2 separate regions of the Homo sapiens genome follow, and region 2 is linked to region 1. The links come from fine-mapping of genetic effects on gene expression. Tissue or cell type: whole blood. Region 1 holds a variant in brackets; the other region holds the start of a gene. All regions are shown on one strand. Distances are between the middles of the regions.

Region 1 (8,104 bases):
TCATCTCACGTTCAAGTCCAGGGTGAATTAGGAAACGTCTCTGCTCAAGAAGTCAAGCAAAAATCCAGGATTAGCTCTTACTGGAACTCATTGCCCTGGCTTGAGTCACCCTCAACACTGACACATTGTTTTCAAGACATATTCACTGAGCACTTACTATATGCTGGAAACTATTTAGACTCTGCGTAATACAACAGAGAATGAAGCCAAATCCATGCCCTCATGGATCTTTCATTCCAGTCGAGGATGGTGGGGACAATCAACAAAATAAATTAGTAAATATGTAGAAATTTAGTGCTGCAGGCCAGGCGCAGTGACTCACGCCTGTAATCCCAGCACTTTGGGAGGCCAAGGTGGGCGGATCACGAGGTCAAGAGATCAAGACCATCCTGGCCAACATGGTGAAATCCCATCTCTATTACCATTTGACCCAGCCATCCCATTACTGGGTATATACCCAAAGGATTACAAATCATGCTGCTATAAAGACACATGCACACGTATGTTTATTGTGGCACTATTCACAATAGCAAAGACTTGGAACCAACCCAAATGTCCAACAACGATAGACTGGATTAAGAAAATGTGGCACATATACACCATAGAATACTATGCAGCCATAAAAAATGATGAGTTCATGTCCTTTGTAGGGACATGGATGAAACTGGAAACCATCATTCTCAGCAAACTATCGCAAGGACAAAAAACCAAACACTGCATGTTTTCACTCATAAGTGGGAATTGAACAATGAGAACACATGGACACAGGAAGGGGAACATCACACACCGGGAACTCTTGTGGGGTGGGGGGAGGGGGAGGGATAGCATTAGGAGATATACCCAATGCTAAACGACGAGTTAATGGGTGCATCACACCAACATGGCACACGTATACATATGTAACAAACCTGCACGTTGTGCACATGTACCCTGAAACTTAAAGTATAATAATAATAAAATTTAAAAATATTTATATATATAAATTAGCTGGGCGTGGTGGCAGGTGCCTATAGTCCCAGCTACTCGGGATGCTGAGGCAGGAGAATCATTTGAACCCAGGAGGCGGAGGTTGCAGTGAACCGAGATCACGCCATTGCACTCCAGCCTGGGCGACAGAGCGAGATGCCGTATCAAAAAAAAAAAAAAAAAGAGAAGAAATTTAGTGCTGCAGAGAAAAATAAGCAGGAAAGGGGGGCAGTGAGTCTCTAGCATGAATGGAAAAGAATAATAGCAATTTTCAGTAGACAGTCAGGAAAGGCCTCACTGAGAAGATATCTGGGTATGACCCGAGCAAGGTGAGAGAACAAGCAACAGCGTGATCTAAGGAAAAACTATTCGAGGCTGAGAGCAGCAGCAGCAGCAGCAGCAGCAGCAAAGGCCCCGAGGCAGGAGAGGCCTAGTGTAACTGAAGGGCAGCAAGCAGGCCGGTGTGGCTGGAGTGCAGTCAAAGCAAAGGCAAAGTTATAGGATTTTTTTTTTTTTTTTTTTTGAGGACAGGGTCTTGCTCTGTGACCCAGGCTGGGGTGTAATGGCACAGTCACGGCTCACTGCAACCTCCGCCTCCCAGGCTCAAGCGATCCTCCCATCTTAGCCTCCCAAGTAGCTGGGATTACACGTGCATGCCACCATACCTGGCTAATTTTTGTATATTTAGTAGAGACGGGATTTCATCATGCTGGCCAGACTGGTCTCAAACTCCTGGCCTCAAGTGTCTGCCCACCTTGGCCTCCAAAGTGCTGGGATTACAAGCATGATCAACTGTGCTTGGCCAGTAAGAGGATTTATAACCAGAGAGGCACAAGCCTTGTAGGCCACTGTAAGGCTTCAGCTTTTCTAGTTGAGGTAGGGAGCCATTGAAGGGTTTTGCACAGAATGATGAGAGCTAATCTGAATCTTGAAAGGACCACTCTGGCTACTGTGTGGAGAATAGTCTGTAGGGGGGAAAGGGCAGAAGCTGAAAGGCCAAGATCTGAGGCTACTGGCTATGATCCAGGCAAAATGTGATAGTGGCTTTGATTAGAGTGTAGCTGGGGAGATGACAGAAAGCTAGCATAGATAGATCTTGCAGGTGGTGCCAATAAGCTTTGCTAGTAAGATTACACTGGGGGTGTAAGAAAAAGAAGAATCAAGTATGATTCTTAGTTTTAGGCCTAAATAGCTGGAAAGATGAAGCTGCCATTATCTGCGATAAAGAAAACAGAGGCCAGGCACGGTGGCTCACGCCTGTAATCCCAACACTTTGAGAGACCGAGGTGGGTGAATCACTTGAGGCCAGGAGTTTAAGAACAGCCTGGCCAAAACAGCAAAAGCCCATCTCTACTAAAAATACAGAAAAAAATCAGCCGGATGTGGTGGCGCACGCCTGTGATCCCAAGTACTCGGGAGGCTGAGGCACGAGAATTGTTTGAACCCAGGAGGTGGAGGTTGCAGTGAGCTAAGATGGCGCTGCTGCACTCCAGCCTGGGTGACAGAGCAAAACTGTCTCCAAAAAAGAAAAACAGATCAAGAGAGAAGCGGATTTAGGGGCAGAGATCAGAAGCGTGGACACAGACATGTGAGATGCCTAACCTAACAGACATCTAAATGGAGATGTTGAACATGTAGGTCTGGAGTTTGAGAGAAAAGTCTAGACTAGAGATACACACTGGAATCTTCTAGGTTCTCAAGGGTATTGAAAGCCATTAGATTGAATGAGGTCGCTGGGGTGGTGAGAACAAATAGAGAAGTCCAAGCACCGAGACCTCTGAGGTACGGCTGTGTTTAAAGGTCAAAGAGATGAGGCTCCAGCAAAAGTGACCAAAAAGGAGTATGCAGTGAGAGGAAATAAACATCGCGAGAGGTCCGCATCCTAAAAGCCGAGGGGAAGGTACCTCAAAACAGAGTGATGGGTTGTTTTCAATGCTGCTAGTAGATCAAATCTGATGAAAAGGAAGAGCTATTCTGTGTAGCAATGTGGAAATCACTGGATCAGAGGAATTTTGGTGGAGTGCTGGAACAAGTCCCAGTGGGGGGACAGAACTGGAGAGAGCACCAGACCAATCTAAGAACTGTATTATAAAGGAGAGCAGAGACATGGAAGTGGCACAGGTGGAAGTGGAATTAAGAGCTTTTTTCCTGTTTTTTTGCTTTTGTTTTCGTTTTTGAGACGGGGTCTCACTCTGTCGCCCAGGCTGGAGTGCAGTGATGCGATCTCAGCTTGTTGCAGCCTCGACCTCCCCAGGCTCAAGGGATCCTCCCTGCCTCAGTCCTCCAGAGTAACTGGGACTACAGGTGTGCGCCACCATGCCTGGCTAAGTTTTTTGTATTTTTTTATAGAGATGGGGTTTTGCCATGTTGGCCAGCCTGGTCTTGAACTCCTGAGCTCAAGCAATCCGCCCGCCTCAGCTTCCCGAAGTGCTGGGATTATAAGCGTGAGCCATCGCACCCGGCTTTTTTTTTTTTTTTTTTTTTGCCAGGTTCTCACTCTGTCACCCAGGCTGGAGTGCAGCGGTGCAATCATGGCTCACGACAGCCTCGACCTCCTGAGCTCAAGGGATTCTGCCCGCCTCACTCCCCCAGAGTAGCTGGCACCACAGGATGTTTGGCAGCGCCCCGGCCTCTCCCTCCTGGGTGCCTATAGTACCCCTCTCCCAGTCATAACCAACAAAAGCGTCTCCAGATATTGCCAAAGAACTCCCAAGATTTTGTCCCCCAGGGGACATTTTGGGTCATCACAACTGGGTGGTGGGGGAGGATGTGTGCTACACGCATCCAGTGAATAGAGGCCAGGGATGCTGCAAAACATCCTACAATACACGGGACAGCCTCCTACGACAGAGTTAGCCAGTCCCAACCCATCCTGATCCAGAGGAAGAGCACGAGAGCAGACGGTGGCTGGCAGGGGACTTCCAGAAGTTCTCTTCTGATTGCTTCCATTTTTTCACCGCAATAGGAAGCTAGATCATCAGCTGTAACCGAGATT[A/G]GGGTTGGGGGTACAGGAGGTTTACGGAGATAAGACATGAAACCGTCCTTAGAAGTGGACACGTATTCTGGACTGCAGAAAGGGTTCACTTGAGCTAAGCAGTCATGAATTTAGTGTGAAACCAGTCAGCTTGGATGTGTTCTTCTTGGGCCATGTTCAGGGGCAGGGTAGGGAGACAGTCAGATGTAAGAGATTGTGGTTTTACCAACAAGCACAAGGAAGAAATGAAAGGGCAAACAAGCAAGTGATAAAAATGACCACAGAATTTGAGCTGGGTGGGGCCGGGCGCGGTGGCTTACGCCTGCAATCCCAACACTTCAGGAGGCCGAGGTGGGCGGATCACTTGAGGCCAGGAGTTTGAGATCAACCTGGCCAACATGGTGAAACCCCATTTCTACTAAAAATACAAAAAGTAGGCCAGGTATGGTGGGGGGGCGCCTGTAATCCCAGCTACTTGGGTGGCTGAGGCAGGAGAATTGCTCGAACGGGAGGCAGAGGTTGCAGTGAGCTGAGATCGTGCCACTGCACTCCGGCCTGGGCAACAGAGCGAGACTCCGTCTTAAAAAAAAAAAAAAAAAAAAAGATTGTGATGACACCTTGCGAGGGGCGGCGGGGAGAACAGAACACAGTTTCCCTCCTGGAATGGAGAAAAGGAACAAGAGTTTTTCACCAAAGGCAGATACCTGTGTCGCATGCAACAGAGGGACACCAGCTTCTTTTCTGCACAGAGGTTAAGCATGCAACAGAGGGACACCAGCTTCTTTTCTGCACAGAGGTTAAGTGTGGGAACTTGGCAAACATACCTTTATACCCAGGGGCAGACAGAAAAATCGGGATGTGGGGGGCTGGAGAGCAAAGCATTTCCTAGAGACACCATCCAAAACACAACCAGTGGGTGTAACTTTAGGGCCAGTTCCTGGCAGTCTTGTTTTCGACCGCTAGGGGTTTGGAAACAGGTGGGATACACTTATTATCAGGCTTCCCAGGAGTCCTGAGGCTCACTGACTAGTGGGAAACGTGGAGCTCTCAGGAACGTATCCTCCGGCCGGTGGCTGGCCACTCTGGTCATCTCGTGGCCCACAATCTAGGCATCAAGCGCTCGAGAGGCCTCTGAAAACGTCTCACCAAAAAAGCAGACTAGAAGGGGGCCCCATGATGAATATGACAGGGAGCTAACTGAGGACATCGGGAAACGGGTACTAGAAAAACCCACGCCACTAGCTGGCCTGCCTCTACTTCTGGGCGGGGGGCGGGGGTGTGTGTGTGGGGGGGATTACATGGCAGATAACTGCCTCCGTTTTCCTACGTGGAAGATGGGCATAACATTGAGACCCAGAGGTGAAAGGGGACGTGTTTAGTCCAACCCTTGTATTTACAAAGGAGGAGACTGAGACCAGAGGTGAACTGACTAGCTCGAGCACCCAGCTCATGAATGGCCAAATCAAGACGAACATCCAGATCCCCACCTTAGTGTTCCCTGCACCCACCTGGTTTCTTCCAGAGGCCTTCCCAGGAAGACAGGAGTTGGCTGAAGGGAGTTCCTGCCACAAAATCAGTATCACTTATCAACCTACCGACCTCAGCAGAAGATCCAGAGAAAAGGACAGCTGCTGCCTGCAGACCAAGTTCACCTGGGCGCTTAAAGATGCCCCCCCCCCCCCGCCCAAATGATTGCAGGTGGGTTTTCAAGCTTGAGAATGGTGAGCAATCCTAGGGTGGTGACGAAGATCCACCTGGAAGCCCTGAAGAAGGCAAATGACACTGACGATGAAAAACAAGAATCACCCTTTGTGATGGAGGGTCCCAGCCCGTTACCCAGACTACAGTCCTGCAAGCAAGTCAGGGACCCCGCACCAGGTTGAATACTCTGCTGTTACCGTGTGAAATTCTCAAAAACTTAACAAGGGGCCTGGCATCTTCATTTTGCACTGGGCCCCTCAATCACGTGGCCAGGGCCGCTGCCACCCTGGAAGCCATAGACGGGTGGCCCCGTCTACACGTCTTCGTCCCCCAACCCCTGCAGCCCTAGACTAAGGAGACCTAACGGAAGCCCTGGCATTTGCACCCCCTAGGCCTGTCCTCGGGAGGGGAAGAAGGCTGCGGGAAGGGGCAGGGGAGCGGGTAGAGGTCCACACCCTCGGGCAAAGGGCCCGCTAACCAGCGGCCCGTCCTCCTTGCTCCGGAGGCGAAGCCTTCCACGCCGCCGCAAGCGGCGACGTCCTGACTTCCGACCGGCAAGTGGGCCGGGTGGCCGAGGCTCAGTTTGCCGGTTGGGAAAATGGGAAGGCGCGGGGCCCTCGCGGGCGGAGGAAGCTGCCGGGGGCGCAAAGCCCGAGCAGGGTGCACTTCCGGCCGCCGGGCCGCCCCGCCGGCGCCTCGATTGAGGGAAAGTTTGGGGACAGATGATAGCAGGGAGGTGCTCTCGGCCGGGGTTCCGGCCTCGCCCTGGTCCCAGGGGCCGCGACTGTGGCGGGCAGGGAAGACAAGCCGCCCAAACGCCGGAGCCCGAGACTCGAAGCCGCCGCAAACTCCTCGCCTCGGGGGCGGGGTCACGGTGGAGAGGCGGGGCTCCGGCGGAGGGACCGGAACTGCTGTGAGTCTATGAATAAAGTCCCAACAATATTCTTCCTCGTAGAGGTTCCATAGTGTAGTGGTTATCACGTCTGCTTTACACGCAGAAGGTCCTGGGTTCGAGCCCCAGTGGAACCATAGCCGTAAGGCGGCTGTTTTTGCTTTTATAGGGTTTCGTTGTTTGGGTTAAAAAAAAAAAAGGGTTTGGGTTAAACAAACAAAAAAAACCAAAAAGCGACAACGAAGTGTTTTTCTTTGTCCTTTTTTTCTTTTTAATTTTTTGGCATGTTTTTCTCGCAGAAGTGAAATGACAGATACCCTCTCCTATCCCACAAGGTCACTGCCGCCATAGTCCGACATGAGAAGTAGTGGAGGGCAGGGGCCGGGCGAAGTCCTAGACCCGATCCGGCGCCCCCGATCCGGCCGGGCCCTACCCCACCTCTCCTCCCAGTACGCCTCGGAAAATCGGGCGCTCGGGGAATGCACCTGGCTGCCCTTTGCCTGCAAGCCAGCAAGGGCCGGCCACCCAACCTCCAACTAAAATGTGGCAGGCAATACAGCAGCGCTTTGACTGCAGGTGAATTATTAAAGGTCGGTCATGATTATGACTCTGATTAAAAGTTCTATTTTTCATTAAACTCTGATGTGCAGAGCACGAAAAAAAAAAAACCCCACAGTCCCTTTTAATGCAGCAGTAGAATTTGTGGAATAGAGTTCATACACAGTATAAAATAAATGTCAGGCTTGTAGACATTCAATAAATACTGGTTGAATGAGCAAACGTTTCTCTAGTTTCTTTCTGTTCCTCTTTACTATTTCATTACAGTTTCCTTTGGGGAGTTTATTATTTGTTTAAATATTGGCTTTTTTATCTTTGACAAGAGGAATGAGGGTGTGGGCCATGGTGAGATGGTGGTAGCAAAAAATATAAAATGGGAAGGGGCACTCAGTATTTTTCTCTGCATTTTCAACCTAGTTATGCATCCTTAACAGTGTAGAAATTTGCGTCTTTTTCTAACTTGAGTGTAACTCTTTCCCTGTTATTACAATCACTTCATCAACTTTATTCTTTTTTTTTTTTTTGGAGGCGGAGTCTCACTCTGTCGCCCAGGCTGGAGTGCAGTGTCGTGATCTCAGCTCACTGCAACCTCTGCCTCCCGGGTTCACACCATTCTCCTGCCTCAGCCTCCCGAGTAGCTGGGACTACAGGCGCCTGCCACCTCGCCCGGCTAATTTTTTGTATTTTTAGTTGAGACGGGGTTTCACCGTGTTAGCCAGGATGGTCTCGATCTCCTGACCTCGTGATCCGCCCGCCTCGGCCTCCCAAAGTGCTAGGATTACAGGCTTGAGCCACCGTGCCCGGCCTTTTTTAAAACCACCTTAACCATTTTTTTTTTTTTTTGAGACAGAGTCTGGCTCTGTCACCCAGGCTGGAGTGCAGTGGTACAATCTCGGCTCACTGAAACCTCGGCCTCCTGGGTTCAAGCGATTCTCCTGCCTCAGCCTCCCGAGTAGCTGAGATTATAGGTGCACGCCACCACGCCCGACTAATTTTTGTATTTTTGGTAGAGA
Region 2 (8,104 bases), 250 kb after region 1:
TAAGTTGAAATGTAGTCCAACTGATGCCATGATCAGATGATAAAGAATCTGTGAGATTCTGTCGCCTCCTTTAACAAGAAATTTGATGTTGCCAAATTATTTGATGTTGCAAAAAAAAAAAAAAAACTTTAAAATCTAAAATTACCCAATTCTGAGTAAATAGCTTTTTCTACTTAGAAAGCAACTTAATACTTCAAATTGTGCTATTCTTGTACCAAAGTGAAGGGTCATCTAAAAGATTTCCCTCATGTTTTAGATCTATGCATGTGAATTAATTATTCCTAAAAGCCTCATATTATTATTTGACATCAATTTATTACATAAAAAAGTCATATTCCCACAGTAACTGCCAAAAATCAGGTACTGTGTTAGCATACCTAATATCTAGAGGAAATAAAGATCACCACCAGTTATCAAAACGGAAGGGGAGAGAATGTGAATTTTAACAGACACGTTGAAGAAAACCTATTTTCCTTGCTCTCTTTGCAAATTTCTTACAGCCAATTTCTCAGATAAAGCTAAATTTTCTTTTACAAAGTAAACTGAAATGAAAATCATAATGAAAGGTTAACTTTCTGCAAGAGAAGCCACTGTCATTTCCAACAATGCAGCTATTGTTAACAGTCTCTCATAGATTCCTGGACACAGTGGTGAAACAAGGCTAGGGGTGATACTTAAAGGAATTTCTCCACCTCTGTCTTTCAGTTTGTAATGTAACAATACTGTACCTTCAAAGTAGAAACACCACGTAAAATCTGGTTCCCGTTAACTGAAACTGCCTTAACCCCAAGCAGCATATTTGCAACCGAATACATCTGATTCGCAATCAGTCAACCTTCTATTACCCATCTATGCGAGACGGCCCTGCAATTTCTTTCAATGGGAGCCTTTCCTTTTAAAACCCCAGGGGACACAATAGATGCCACACTCTGATTTAAATAATTCCAAGAAAATTACAATATAAACAAAGGCAGACTTAGGGAACTTGCATAAGTAAAAATCAAAAACCTGAGAAAAAGGGGTAAAAAAATACCAATCACAAACCCCTAAATCATGAATAAATTTTAAGACTGAGCCAGGAAAAAAGGAATTACTCTCTGGACAAAGAATTCTATTTCAAATTTAAAAAAAATATATCGGATTTTGATTTTAAAAAATTTAGGCTTAGGAAATATGCTAAACAACAAAACTGGAATACTCAACTGTTTGATATATATACATCTAGCAAATTAATCGCTGCATTGACTATGTTAAAAAGGCAAGACAATTCAAAGAGATTTGATACCCTCTCCAATTGAGGAACCCCCAACTACTCTGAAATGGCAGATAATATCTAACACTCTTGGAATGGTTAACTTTATTTAGTATGCCTCTTTTGTAGTTCTATTATTTAATAGAGCCAAACGGAATTTTTCCCTAATTAGGTTTCCTTGTACTTGTGAAATGCTCAGCATACAGTGCTGGCAGCATTAGCTTCTCTCTTCTGGCTCCTTCCCCCCTCAACCACCCTCACCTCCCCCCCAACCCCCGCCCCGAAAAAAAGATTTCCTTCCCAAATGTTCTCTTCTCTGCATTTGTCAACAGAAACACCTACTGGTGGTGTCAAACTGCTAAGACTGCTGCAGGCTTCCTTATTCCTGGTTTCAGTGTCAACGCCAAAAATTCTCAATCCTAAAATAGTACTTTTAATAAAAAGAAATTAGAAGTCTTGCTAGGTACTCAACCTATCATATTCTCGAAAAGCAGCACGCCTTTTTTAAAAATCTATTATTAATGGACCCTAATTGGATTGTTAATCATAAGATCATACTATCACCTTCAACACTAACATACAGGAACAAGTAAATATAGCCTCTTCACATTTTGTGAACAAAACATTTTAAAACACTTGAAGGAAATAAAAACAAATTTACATCTAAGTGTCACTCACATGTAATTCCGAATAGCCTCGGTGAAGATGTCTTTTTTGTAACCCTACAGCAAGAAAGAAACAAGCTGGAAATGTTCCAGCAGATGTTACCTAAAACGATAATCCTGTTCTATACACATCTCTGTCTCCTGTTTCTGACAAACGCTCTCAGACAAATTAATTTGTGTAATCTTTTACATTAACTATATAACCATTACGTTCAAACAAACCTAATTCAGATGCACAGAAAGAAATCATTCGGTGTCAACAATACTTTCTAAAATCAGCTTAAATTCCAGCCAATTAAAATAGATTGTGCTAACAGAATACTGATCTGCAACTACTTAAATATCACAGCACCCGTCTAATCTCACTGTAGAGATACTAAGGTCAGGCTTTTCTTATTCAGGCATCTGTTCTTTAACACTCAAATGAAGCGAAAAACAAAACCCTCAAGGAAGATCTGCCTTTACACTGAAATATGTTCAGGTTATTTTTTTCCCCAACGTGGGCACAAAACGTGTCAATGCAAGGAGGACCTGTTCGTTCTGGGAGACGGTTCCAAATCCCAGAATCCGATTTCTATGAGGGTCCAAAAGGTATGAAGGTCTGAGAAGGGGCCATTCTTCTTCCCCGCACTATGCCAGTCGTGAACTTCACAGCATCGCCTGAAACTTGTCCGGGGGAGGTTGCGGAGCCGCGGGGCCGGCGCCCGGTCGCTAGCCCACCCTCGCGGGCAGCCAAGGTCAGAAGGGCCCGGGCCGCGACTGACGGCCCCTGGCGAGTCTCGGGCTCCCTCCGAACTCGGGCAGGGGGCTGGGGCGCGCAGGCCCCTCCTCGGCGCCGGCGGGAAGGGGCTTACCTCGCCGCAAGCCCCGGGGAGCTCGTGCCGCGGGAGCGGCGGGGCGGGGACGCCGCAGACCCGCCGCTGAGGGGAACCCCGCGGGGCGGGCTCGACCCGCCGCCCCTCTTTCACACCCTTTCGCCTCCCCACACCCCAAAAGACAGCCCCAGCCCCTCGGGGGAAGCCCTTCCAGAGGCGCAGGGGAGCGCTGAGGAGGGGCTACTCCGGGCTGGGACGTCCTCACCGCGTCGCCCCGTTCCGGGGGAACCGGCGCCCCCGCCCCTTCTCTTGTCCGCCCGGGGGGACTGGGTGGGTCTCCACTCTCAGGAGAAGCTGGGTGGACGCGGGGCCGATGTAAGGGTAAGAAGGCTTGGCGGGCGGGTGGCGGCGCGACTACTCACCCCGCCGAGTCCCCCACTTCTAGCAGGGGACCCCACAGCTCCTGAGGACGCCGTCGCCGCTTTACCTTCCCCAGCGGCAGAGACAACTAATCGAAACCTCCGGCCCCGCCCTCTAGCAGAAGCGAACGCGCAGCCTATTTTGCTAACTGCCCCGCCCCAGCCGGCCCGTTCGGACCAATGGGAAAGCACCTCAGGTTTTGCCCGATCCCGCCTTTACCCCGCCCCCTTCTGGTAGGAGCCAATGAGGAGGAAGCGCTTGTCCTGGGGTTCGGGCTCGCGCCGCTCGTGCTCGAGTCTCCGAAGCCGAAGAACGCTGGTTCCTTATACAAGCTCGCCTGCGCGCTCACGCGCGCGCCGCGCCTCCTGGCACGCCAGGTTTGGTTGCCCCGCCAAGCCCTAGCAACCTGGGCTGGAGAGGCTGAGAGGGGCGGGGCCCGAGCCTGGAGTCGACGCCGGGGGGTAGAGCGGGGAAGCAGGGAGAGGGTCGACGGTGGTGGGGTGGGGAGATCGTGACTGAGAAAGGGGTGGCTGCGGGGGTAGGAGGTGGCGAGGAGGCCCCGGAATCCGCCTGTCACTGCGGAAAAAAGAGGGAATCCTGCCTGCAGCGCAGCTACCCTGCCCTCCCTCCGGAGGGACCCGTGCCGGGGGCTGGGGTGGGGGAAGTCGGAGAAGAGGGGGAGAACATACTCGGGGCGGGAGCTGAGAAATACAGGATGGAGGATGGTTTATCTCTGTTGTTGGTAAAAATGATATCGAAGTCCATTGCTGCTGCTGCCCAACTGTTGCCGCTGCGTGTGCACACACACACGCACATATGCACACACACAACACACACTCACACGTACACTCATCCAGCAGCTTGCGGTCCCTTGGGTGAGTTAGGCGCAAAGACCTAGCAGCCTGAGGATTCCTTACACAGCAGCTGGGCGCGTGCAAAGAGCTGTTGCAGCAGTAGCAGCAGCAGCAGCAGCAACGACCCACACCTCCGCTTCGGTCCGATGCTCTGCCACACAAGATCCCCCAGCTGGCTTGAAAGCAATGAAGTCATCGCCCAACCAGTACAAATGTAAAGATCTTAATACCCACCATGGATCGGGTTTCCAAGGAGGATGAAGAGGTGATGAAATTGAAGGAGATAACATTTCCAATGCTACTTTTAGAAAATAAAGAAAAAAAATTTTTTTAAAAAGACATTGGGGACAAATCTATGGAAAGCTGCATAATTATTTTCGCTTTAACAAGCAAAGGAGAAAAATAGGGTCTCTTCTGGTTAGGAAAAGCACGGAAAATAGGCAGTGTATGAGGTCATAGCTGCCACCAAATTAGAAAGATGCAGTACTGTAATAGGAAATAGATATTTGGGATAAAATCCACTTAATCTATTCCTGTAGTGAATCTGGTAACAATATGTAGCAGCATGCTCAGTTTGGCCACTTGATACCAAGCCAATAGGATTTTCTTTTTCATAACGGTGAATATTTGATGAGGAAATGAAAGTGGAAGCATATTAGAAAATTTTACAGGTAGGAGCAATGAATTAGCAAAGAGGGAAAATGGAGTCAGAGGCAACAACAGAGGGCTTCGCAGAGTCTCCTGCCTCCTCCAGATGCAAAGTAACAGTGCTGTGACCTCTAGCTTCACCCACGTGGATCCAGAACTCCTGGGGCAATCACTCCATTTTCATCCCTGTATATCAGAGCCTTTGTACTAGGAATTTCAGCAGCATTACCTTTGACTCAAATGAATAATTTTTTAAAATTTTATTTAGACCTGGTGAACCGGAAGTAACAAATTAATTATCCGTATAGATTGAGAAGATGGAGAAAAAACAATAACTGAACATCTGTTAATATAGGTCCAATTTAGTATTAAGTAGTAATATTAGATGCCTTATAATGTGCCATCCCATATACACAAATATGACCTTCTGCTTAGGGACATTTGCTTTGATCTGGTTTTAAGTAGTGGTAAAGGATTTCTTGCAGTCACTTGCAGTTTAGTTAATTCGTCTTTTGGTCAAAAACTAACCTTTCTAGAAAGTTAGTAAAAGTTTAAAAAGTACCATGCGCCGGGAGCAGTGGCTCACGCCTGTAATCCCAGCACTTTGGGAGGCCAAGGCAGGTGGATCACCTGAGGTCAGAAGTTCGAGACCAGCCTGGCCAACATGGTGAAACCCCATCTCTACTAAAAATAGAAAAAAATTAGCCGGGAGTGGTGGCGTGCACCTGTAATCCCACCTACTCAGGAGGCTGAGGCAGGAGAATTGCTTGAACCCAGGAGGTCAAGGTTGCAGTGAACCGAGATGGTACCACTGCACTCCAGCCTGGGCTAGAGTAAGACTCTGTCTCCAAAAAAAAAAGTACCATGCTGCCATTTAACTGAGCACTTATGTAGAAAGAACACTAATACTAGCCAGTGAATGGATACCTGCTCTGTGCCAAGAACTTCACATAGATTTAGGGTTGCCAGATAAAATACAAGATGCCCCGTTAAATTTGAATTTCAGATAAACAACGAATAATTTTTAGTATAAATGTGTATTTTTATCCTGGATACATGTGGAACAAGGCTAGAAAACTAAATAAGGTTCTAACCATTGCCAAAAAAATTACGAAATGCCCTTCTAGGTCTAGACCTTGTAATGCAATCAGGATCTGGGAGAAAAGCTTAAGAACCAAATTAATGTATAAATTTGTAGTGTTTGTAGAAAGAGGTGAGCATACTTAGACTAAAATATTATTTGCTGTTTATCTCAAATTCAATTTTAACTGAGCATCTTCGATTTTTATTTGCTAAATCTGACACATTATCTCTAATCCTCTCAATTCTCTGCGAAATTCTCACCATTTTCCAGATGAAGAAACAGCTTGAGAACCTCCCCAGCATCGATTTGCTTTTTTGCCCTTCTAATAGAACCCCAACTCTGTTCAGGCATCCACCCGCTCCACACTACCCAGAGTCTCAGTCAATCAATGTGTGGCCTAATTACACTGAAGGAAAGAATTTAACATTTGATGGTTTGAAAGAGGTTTTCCCTGTCTACCCTGCTGGATGAACAAGGAAGCAAGTACGCTTGTTGCCACTGACAGTCATTTCGTGACTAAGAGGAAAACCAGCCCTAGGTCAAAGCCTACACACTAAATAAGGCAGAATCAAAAAATAGAAAAAAAAATTTTTAACTGGGTTCTTGATGACGTCACTGAGTTGTTTCATTAAACAAACTCTGCCCTTTCCTTGCATTTCAGACAGTTTGAGTCAGACTTTCTATTAGATGCCAGAGACGCATCCCACTACAGATGTCAGAACCTATGAGTGCTACTCATTACGGGTCTCAATAATCAATAAACAAGTGGTAATCAAGATGTAAGACATTTTTGGCTGAGCACGGTGGCTCACGCCTGTAATCCCAGCATTTTGGGAGGCCAAGGCAGGCGGATCATCTGACATCAGGAGTTTGAGACCAGCCTGACCAATATGATGAAACCCCGTCTCTACTAAAAATACAAAAATTAGCCGGGCATGGTGGCATGTGCCTGTAATCCCAGCTACTCGGGAGGCTGAGACAGGAGAATCGCTTGAACCCGGGAGGCGGAGGTTGCAGTGAGCCGAGATTGCGCCATTGCACTCCAGCCTGGGCAACAAGAACGAAACTCCATCTCAAAACAAAAAAAAAGTAAGACATTTTTATCCTTGATATATGTGGGACAAGTCTAGAAGACTAAACAAGCATTCTATTCATTGTCAAAAAAACATTTATGAAGTATCCATCTGGGCCTAGACCTCATAATGCAATCAGGATCTGGTAGAAAAGCTTAAGAATCCAATCAACACATAATTTTTTTTTTTTTTTGAGACAGGGTCTTGCTCGGTCACCCAGGCTGGAGTGCAGTGGCATGATCTCAGCTTACTACAACCTCTGCCTTCTGGGTTCAAGTGATTCTTTTGCCTCAGCCTCCCTAGTAGCTGGGACTACAGGCGCACGCCACCACACTCTGCTAATTTCTGTATTTTTAGTAGAGATGGGGTTTCACCATGTTGGCCAGGCTGGTTTTGACCTCAAGTGACCCGCCTGCCTCAGCCTCCCAAAGTGCTGGGATTACAGGCATGAGCCGCGGTGCCTGGCTCAGTGCATAAATTTATAGTGTTTGCAGGAAGAGGTGAGCATTAGTTATTCCTCGGCCCTGCTCAGAGCTTAAATCAAACCGTCAGATCTTACATGTTTTCATTTAAAGTTTATATCATTTGGAAAATTTTCATTTTGGAAATTTGAATCCAATTCCTCATTTGAAACAAAGCCTCTATCTTTGTCCTCCAGGCACTGAGTTTAACCAGGAACAGTGGGGAAAGAACAGAAATGTCAGCCTTAACACTTTAACCAATATTCTTCTGTACCTTGAGCAAACCTTACATTGCAATCATATCTTTTAAGACTCGGGCGTCAGATGGCCTGGGCTCAAATGCTAGCTCTAGTTATGTCCTTGGGCAAATTGCTCAACTTCTCTATGCCTCAGTTTCCTCCTCTGTAAAAATGGAGATGAAGCCGGGCGCGGTGACTCATGCCTGTAATCCCAGCACTTTGAGAGGCCAAGGTGGGTGGATCACTTGAGGTGTGGAGTTCGAGACCAGCCTGGCCAACACAGGGAAACCCCGTCTCTACTAAAAATACAAAAATTAGCTGGGCGTGGTGGTGAGTGTCTGTAATCCCAACTACTTGGGAGGCTGAGGCAGGAGAATTGCTTGAACCCGGGAGACAGAGATTGCAGTGAGCCTGAGATTGCACCACTGCACTCCAGCCTGGGCAAAAGAGTGAGACTCCGTCTCAAAAAAAATTGGAGATGATGAAGATGATAATAGTGCTTACTTCATAGGTTTAGGTGAGTGACTATTTGTGAAATACTTAGAAGAGTATCTGACCCATAGTAAGGACTTTATAAAGATTAGCTGTTACTG

The links. PIP is the estimated chance that this variant, and not a neighbour inherited with it, causes the effect.
Region 2: CDKL5 starts here. The variant in region 1 is fine-mapped to the expression of CDKL5 in whole blood (TOPMed, PIP above 0.99).

Annotation. Positions count from the first base shown.
Region 1 is chrX:18,673,475-18,681,578 of GRCh38, reverse strand. TRV-TAC1-2 (tRNA-Val (anticodon TAC) 1-2) reads left to right here and starts at 6,598; the gene lies at 6,598-6,670. It also overlaps a transcript of PPEF1 not described here. RefSeq lists a silencer at 6,487-6,673. The variant A/G (reference allele first, on the strand shown) is at 3,962.
Region 2 is chrX:18,420,746-18,428,849 of GRCh38, reverse strand. It overlaps CDKL5 (cyclin dependent kinase like 5), which reads right to left and starts at 3,242. Exons shown (of 18, transcript NM_001323289.2): 1 at 3,155-3,242. RefSeq lists a silencer at 2,922-2,991 and an enhancer at 3,327-3,621.